Homo sapiens: one gene and its partner. The protein of the gene in region 1 interacts with the protein of each later gene in a pairwise test. Each region holds a gene or a part of one and is shown in the gene's direction. Other genes may lie near its edges.

The links. Proteins that work in one complex are often made in the same cells at the same time.
Region 2: the proteins of ATP5PF (region 1) and MALL interact in binary tests that used the Homo sapiens proteins (3 or more experiments, as listed by UniProt).

Annotation. Positions count from the first base shown.
Region 1 is NC_000021.9:25,724,905-25,728,404, reverse strand, and holds part of ATP5PF (ATP synthase peripheral stalk subunit F6, mitochondrial isoform a precursor), read left to right. Parts: intron 1-3,054; coding exon 3,055-3,179; intron 3,180-3,500. UniProt on the Homo sapiens protein: Subunit F6, of the mitochondrial membrane ATP synthase complex (F(1)F(0) ATP synthase or Complex V) that produces ATP from ADP in the presence of a proton gradient across the membrane which is generated by electron transport complexes of the respiratory chain.
Region 2 is NC_000002.12:110,109,323-110,112,822, reverse strand, and holds part of MALL (MAL-like protein), read left to right. Parts: intron 1-3,500.

The DNA of each region.
Region 1 (3,500 bases):
TATAATTCTATTTCCCTGGAGTATAGGGTATATGAAGAGTATAAGGATGGTATGGGGTTAGAATGAGGGATTATGGAAGGCCTTGATTGTAGACTGAGCAAGTAAGATATGTGGTAGGCATTTGTGAGAAATTACAGCTTTTTGAACATGACTGTGGGGATGGAAGATTACTCTGAATTAGGAGGATAATTTTAACCAGGGTATTGGAAGGATTGAAATGAGAAGAGAGCAAAGACAGACATGTTAGCAAAATGTAACCTAAGCATTAGTTGATGAGAACCTTGACTTTATAGCAGTGGTAATGTAAAAGTGACAGAGTCAAGACATTGAAACACTGATGCCTGGTTTTGGTGAGCTGCTGGAGAGGAAGAAGAGGGAACAATAAAAGAAAACTGACTTTTGAGGCGAGGTAACTAACAAAGGTGTTACCATTGCCAAAACTGAGGAGGAGAAATAGTGAAGGGATTAAAATGTAGTAAGTTACTCTGTGCTTTGTAGACATGGTAATGAAACTCTGACAACAACCCTATAGATGTTACCCCAATTTTATATATGAGAAAACCAAGGCTGAAAGTTAGAATTTGCCAAAAATCATACTGTTAAGTAACCAGATGTGCAGGACTCGTCAGGGAATTTTGAGTGTCTTCTGTCCAAATGTGGTGTTATATTAGAGTATTGATGCTGTTTGCATCATTTTAACTGTCTTTAAAAGCCTATCTAGTAAGAAGTGAATTCTTAGGTGTACCCTATATCTAAGGAGTCTTGTTTGTGGGTCATTCATTCGTTTGTGCAAACAAACACATGGAGAGTTCTGAGGGTAGACCCTGGGCTGGCATCCAGCACTGCCACTAATTAGCTCTATGACCTTGGGCAGGTTTAACTTCTGTAGGACAGTTTTCTCATATGTAAAAGGAGGATGATGGTAGTACTTACCCATTTCATAGGATATTATAAAAATTAAATTATTCAATACATTAGCATGCCTAGTATTTGCTAGTGAAATGAACAAGTATCTTCTGAGTGACTGCTTTGTCCTAGGCATCATGTGAGAGCCTAGGAATATAGTAATAAGCAAGATAAGCAGCAAGACTTACATTCAGTTGAGGAGGTAGATGATTTCTGGCCTCTTTTTATCACAAGAGTGCATATTAAAGTTAAAATAGCCATCATCCATCTGTAACCAGTATTAGAGTATCTAGTTGAAGGATCTATTTAGAACCGCAGTGTCCATTTTGGTTGCCGTTATCCATGAGACTATTCAAATTCTAATTACAATTAAGTGTATTTATAAATTCAGTTTCTCATTTTCTCATTCATGTTAGCTATATTTCTAGTGCTCAATAGCCAGATATGGCTAGTGGCTGCCACACTGGACAGCACAGACAGAGAGCGTTTCTAACATCACAAAAAGGTCTATTGGACAGTGCTAATCTAAAAGAAAATTGGGTCTCTAACAAGAAATATTGATAACAAGTTCTTAAATTGGAGCCACCTATGTATTTTTTGTGCATGTTCTTTAACTTAAATAAGACTGTATACTTTGATCATAGGCATGTGTAAAAATGTTATTACCCTTGAAGGAATTTTCATGTGTACATTTTTTTACATTTAGAATATTGTTCATTGCTAGGTAGGCAGTAGTATTTATGACAAAAACAGAAGAATTTCTTCAAAGAATTAATGAGACCCAGTTGGCCCTGCTGCTGGTCCATAATGCTATATTTATTTTCCCAAAATGCACAAGTCTAATTTTGTCATTTTATTGCTTGGCAAATAAAATACAAACTCCCAGGCTTAACATTCCGGGCCTCCCATGATCTGGGGTCTGCTGGTTTTTCCATCTAGACTCCTTAGCATTCCCCACATACAGCCAATCCCTTACCACCTCTATGTCTTTGCTTTTTCCATCTTAGAAGGTCTCAAAATAAACCCTGGCCCCAGATGCCTGATGTTTCTCAAATGCCACCTTTTTAAAATGAAATTTTCCCTGATTAGCTTAGCAAAAGTAATCTCTTCCTCAACTTGAATAGCTTTTTGTTAAATCATGTCTTTGAAGCTCATCACATCACTCCTTTACAGCATAAATGTTTGTAAACATGTAATTTTTTTCTTCGAAATTGCAAAATCTCTGAGGGTAGGAAATAATTTGCTTCTTTAATAGGACCCCTATGGTAGAAACTTAAAAGTCTAAGGTCTTTAAAAGCCATTTAGTGATGGCTGACTTAAAGCAGATGATATTAGTAGATAATAATTGAGTACTCACTGTGTGCCAGGCACTGTGCTTAGAGGTACGTGTGCATTTACACCCTCGTTTGGTAGAACCTTCATATTTAGTTGTGGAAACTAAAATTTAGAGTGCTCTGTGCCTTACTCAGGTTTACGCAGTTGCTGAATAGTTGAACTTACACTCAAACAGGACCAGTCTTTGACTCCAGAGCCTGTAGACTTAACGATACACCTTTTGCAACTTAGACCCTGAGAAATTCTGACTTAGTGAGTGTCCGTGATTCTGAGAAACCTTGAATGTTAGAGATTGGTTTGAGGATACCTCATTTATGTGAAACCTCATCGTAATAAAATAGTTTGAATTGAAATTGAAGTAGAAATACTTATTTTCTTTCTGAAGTCTTTTCTTTGACTACATGAATGCTTTAAAAAGGTCTATTGGCCGGGTGTGGTGGCTCACGCCTGTAATCCGAGCACTTATGGGAGGCCGAGGCGGGCGGATCATGAGGTCAGGAGATCGAGACCATCCTGGTTAACATGGTGAAACCCCCTCTCTACTAAAAATACAAAAATTAGCTGGGCATGGTGGCGTGTGCCTGTAATCCCAGTTACTTGGGAGGCTGAGACAGGAGAATCGCTTGAACCAGGGAGTCGGAGGTTGCAGAGAGCCAAGATCATGCTACCGCACTCCAGCCTGGCGACCAAGCAAGACTCCGTCTCAAAAAAGAAAAAAAAAAAAAGATCTGTTGGAATGTGGTGGTGAAAAGTAATTTTGTTTTTGTAAGCTAGTACACAAAATTAATTTTTGTTTGCTCATTTACTTAACAGGACATCTGGAGGACCTGTTGATGCTAGTTCAGAGTATCAGCAAGAGCTGGAGAGGGAGCTTTTTAAGCTCAAGCAAATGTTTGGTAATGCAGACATGAATACATTTCCCACCTTCAAATTTGAAGGTACGTCTTATAAATCACAGATTCATTCTTGTGGGGGATAAGTGAAGAATATTTACACTTACCTGGATTTTTAGAGAACTGAATGACAGTGTTGACATGTGAATTTATTAGGACCATGACGTGTGCCTGAGAAGCTGCCGGCTAAATGTTTGCTGTTAGAATAAGAGCAGTATAGGAGATCACATAACATAGTGATTAAATGGTGGGGATCTGAAATCGAACTGCCCAATCTTGAATCCTTATAATCACTTTCAGCTGTGTAATCTTGAGTAATTAACTGGTGCATGTCTCCTCATCTGACATTTGGGGAGAATTATAGTA
Region 2 (3,500 bases), on another chromosome or scaffold:
ACAATTTCACAATTGTGAATTGTGCTGCTATAAACATGTGTGTGCAAGTATCTTTTTTGAATAATGACTTCTTTTCCTCTGGATTGATACTGAGTAGTGTGATTGCTGGATCAAATGGTAGTTCTACTTTTAGTTCTTTAAGGAAACTCCACACTGTTTTCCATAGTGGATGTACTAGTTTACATTCCCACCAGAAGGGTAGAAGTGTTTCCTGTTCACCACATCCACACCAACATCTATTTTTTTTTTGATTTTTTGATTATGGCCATTCTTGCAGGAGTAAGGTGGTTTCACAATGTGGTTTTAATTTCCATTTCCCTGATCATTAGTGATGTTGAGCATTTTTTCATGTTTGTTGGCCATTTGTATATCTTCTTTTGAGAATTGTCTATTCATGTCCTTGGCCCACTTTTTGATGGGATTGTTTGTTTTTTTCTTACTGATTTGTTTGACTTCCTTGTAGATTCTGAATATTAGACCTTTGTCAGATGTACAGATTGCGAAGATTTTCTCCCACTCTGTGGGTTATCTGTTTACTCTGCTGTCTGTTCCTTTTGCTGTGCAAAAGCTCTGTAGTTTAATTAGGTCCCAGCTATTTATCTTTGCTTTCATTGCATTTGCTCTTGGGTTCTTGGTCATGAAATCCTTGCCTAAGCCAATGTCTAGAAGGGTTTTGCCAATGTTATCTTCTAGAATTTTTGTAATTTCAGGTCTTAAGTTTAAGTCCTTAATCCATCTTGAGTTGGTTTTTGTATAAGGTGAGAGATGAGGATCCAGTTTCAATCCCCTACATGTGGGTAGCCAATTATCCCAGCACCATTTATTCAAAAGGATGTCCTTTCCCCACATTATGTTTTTGTTTGCTTTGTCAAAGATCAGTTGGCTGTAAGTATTTGGGTTTATTTCTGGGTTCTCTATTCTGTTCCGTTGGTCTATGTGCCTATTTTTATACCAGTATCATGCTGTTTTGGTGACTATGGCCTTATAGTATAGTTTGAAATCAGGTAGTGTGATGCCTCCAGATTTGTTCTTTTTGCTTAGTCTTGCTTTGGTTATGTGGGCTCTTTTTTGTTCCATATGAATTTTAGAATTTTTTTTTCTAATTCTGTGAAGAATGATGGTGGTATTCTGATGGGGATTGCATTGAATTTGTAGATTGCTTTTGGCAATATGGTTATTTTCACAACATTGATTCTACCCATCCATGAGCATGAGATGTGTTTCCGTTTGTTTGTGTCATCTGTGATTTCTTTCAGCAGTGTTTTATAGTTTTCCTTGTAGAGGTCTTTCAACTCCTTTGTTATGTATATTCCTAAGTATTTTATTATTACTATTATTATTTTTTGCAGCTATCATGAAAGGGGTTGAGCTCTTGATTTGATTCTCTGCTTGGTCGCTGTTGGTGTATAGAAAAGCTACTGATTTGTGTACATTAATCTTGTATCCAGAAACTTTTGCTGAATTCTTTTATCAGTTCTAGGAGCTTTCTGGAAGAGTCCTTAGAGTTTTCAAGTTAAACGATCATATCGTCAGCAAACAGTGACAGTTTGACTTCCTCTTTACTGATTTGGATGCCCTTTATTTCTTTCTCTTGTCTGATTGCTCTGGCTAGGACTTCCAGTACTATGGTGAAGAGGAGTGGTGAGAGTGGGCATCCTTGTCTTGTTTCAGTTCTCAGAGGGAATGCTTTCAACTTTTCGCCATTCAGTATTACGTTGGCTGTGGGTTTGTCATAGATGGCTTTTATTACATTAAGATATGTCCCTTGTATGCCGATTTTGCTGAGAGTTTTGACAATAAAGCAATGCTGGATTTTTTCAAATGTTTTTTCTGCATCTATTGAAATGATCATGTGATTTTTGTTTTAAATTCTGTTTATGTGGTGTATCACATTTATTGACTTGCATATGTTAAACCATCCTTGCATCTCTGGTATGAAACTCACTTGATCATGGTGGGTTATCTTTTTGATACATTGTTGGATTCAGTTAGCTAGTATTTTGTTAAGGATTTTAGCATCTATGTTCATCAAAGACATCAGTCTGTAGTTTTCTTTTTTGGTTACGTCCTTTCCTGGTTTTGATATTAGGGTGATGCTGGCTTCATAGAATGAATTAGGGAGGGTTCCTTCATTCTCTATCTTGTGGAATAATGTCAAAAGGATTGGTACCAATTCTTCTTTGAATGTCTGGTAGAATTCTGGTGCGAATCCATCCGTTCTTGGACTTTTTTTGTTGGTAATTTTTAAATTACCATTTCAATCTTGCAGCTTGTTATTGATCTGTTTAGTGTATCTAATTCTTCCTGATTTAAGCTAGGAGGGTTGTATTTTTCCAGGAATTTATCCTTCTCCTCTAGGTTTTCTAGTTTATGTGTGTAAAGGTGTTCCTAGCAGCCTTGAATGATCTTTTGTATTTTGGTGGTGTCAGTTGTAATATCTCCTGTTTCGTTTCTTAGTGAGGTTATTTGGATTTTCTCTCTTCTTTCCTTGGTTAATCTTGCTAATGGTCTATTAATTTTATTTATCTTTTCAAAGAAACAGCTTTTTATTTCATTTATCTTTCATGGGTTTTTTTGGTTTCAATTTCATTTAGTTCTGCTCTGATCTTGGTTATTTCCTTTCTTCTGCGGGTTAGGATTTGGTTTGTTCTTGATTCTCTAGTTCCTTGAGGTGTGACCTTAGATTTTCTGTTTGTGCTCTTTCAGACTTTTTGATGTAGGTGTTTAGGGCTATGAACTTTCCTCTTAACACTGCCTTTGCTATATACCAGAGGTTTTGATAAGTTGTGTCATTATTGTCATTCAGTTTGAAGAATTTTTAAATTTCCTTCTTGATTTTGTTTTTGACTCAATGCTTTCAGAAGCAGGTTATTTAATTTCCATGTATTTGAATGGTTTTGAAGATTCCTTTTGGAGTTGATTTCCAGTTTTATTCTACTGTGGTCTGACAGAGTGCTTGATATAATTTCAATTTTCTTAAATTTATCAAGTCTCATTTTATGGTCTAGCATATGGTCTATCTTAGAGAAAGTTCCATGTGCTGTTGTATAGAATGTGTATTCTGCAGTTGTTGGATGAAATGTTCTGTCAGTTGTAATATCTCCTGTTTCATTTCTGTTAAGTCCGTTTGTTCCAAGGTAGTTTAAATCCATTGTTTCTTCATTGACTTTCTGTCATGATGGCCTGTCTAGTGCTGTCAGTGGAGTATTGAAGTCCCCCACTATTATTGTGTTGCTTTCTATCTCATTTCTTAGGTCTATTAGTAATTGTTTTATAAATTTGGGACCTCCAGTGTTAGCAGCATGTATGTTTAGGATTGTGAAATTTTTCTGTCGGACAAGGCCTTTTACCGTTATATACTGTCCCTCTTTGTCTCTTTTAACTGATAATGCTTTAAAGTTTGTTTTATCTGATATAAGAATAGCTACCCCTGCTTGCTTTTGGTGTCCATTTGCATGAAGTACCTTTTTCCACCCTTTTACTTTAAGTTTATTTGAGTC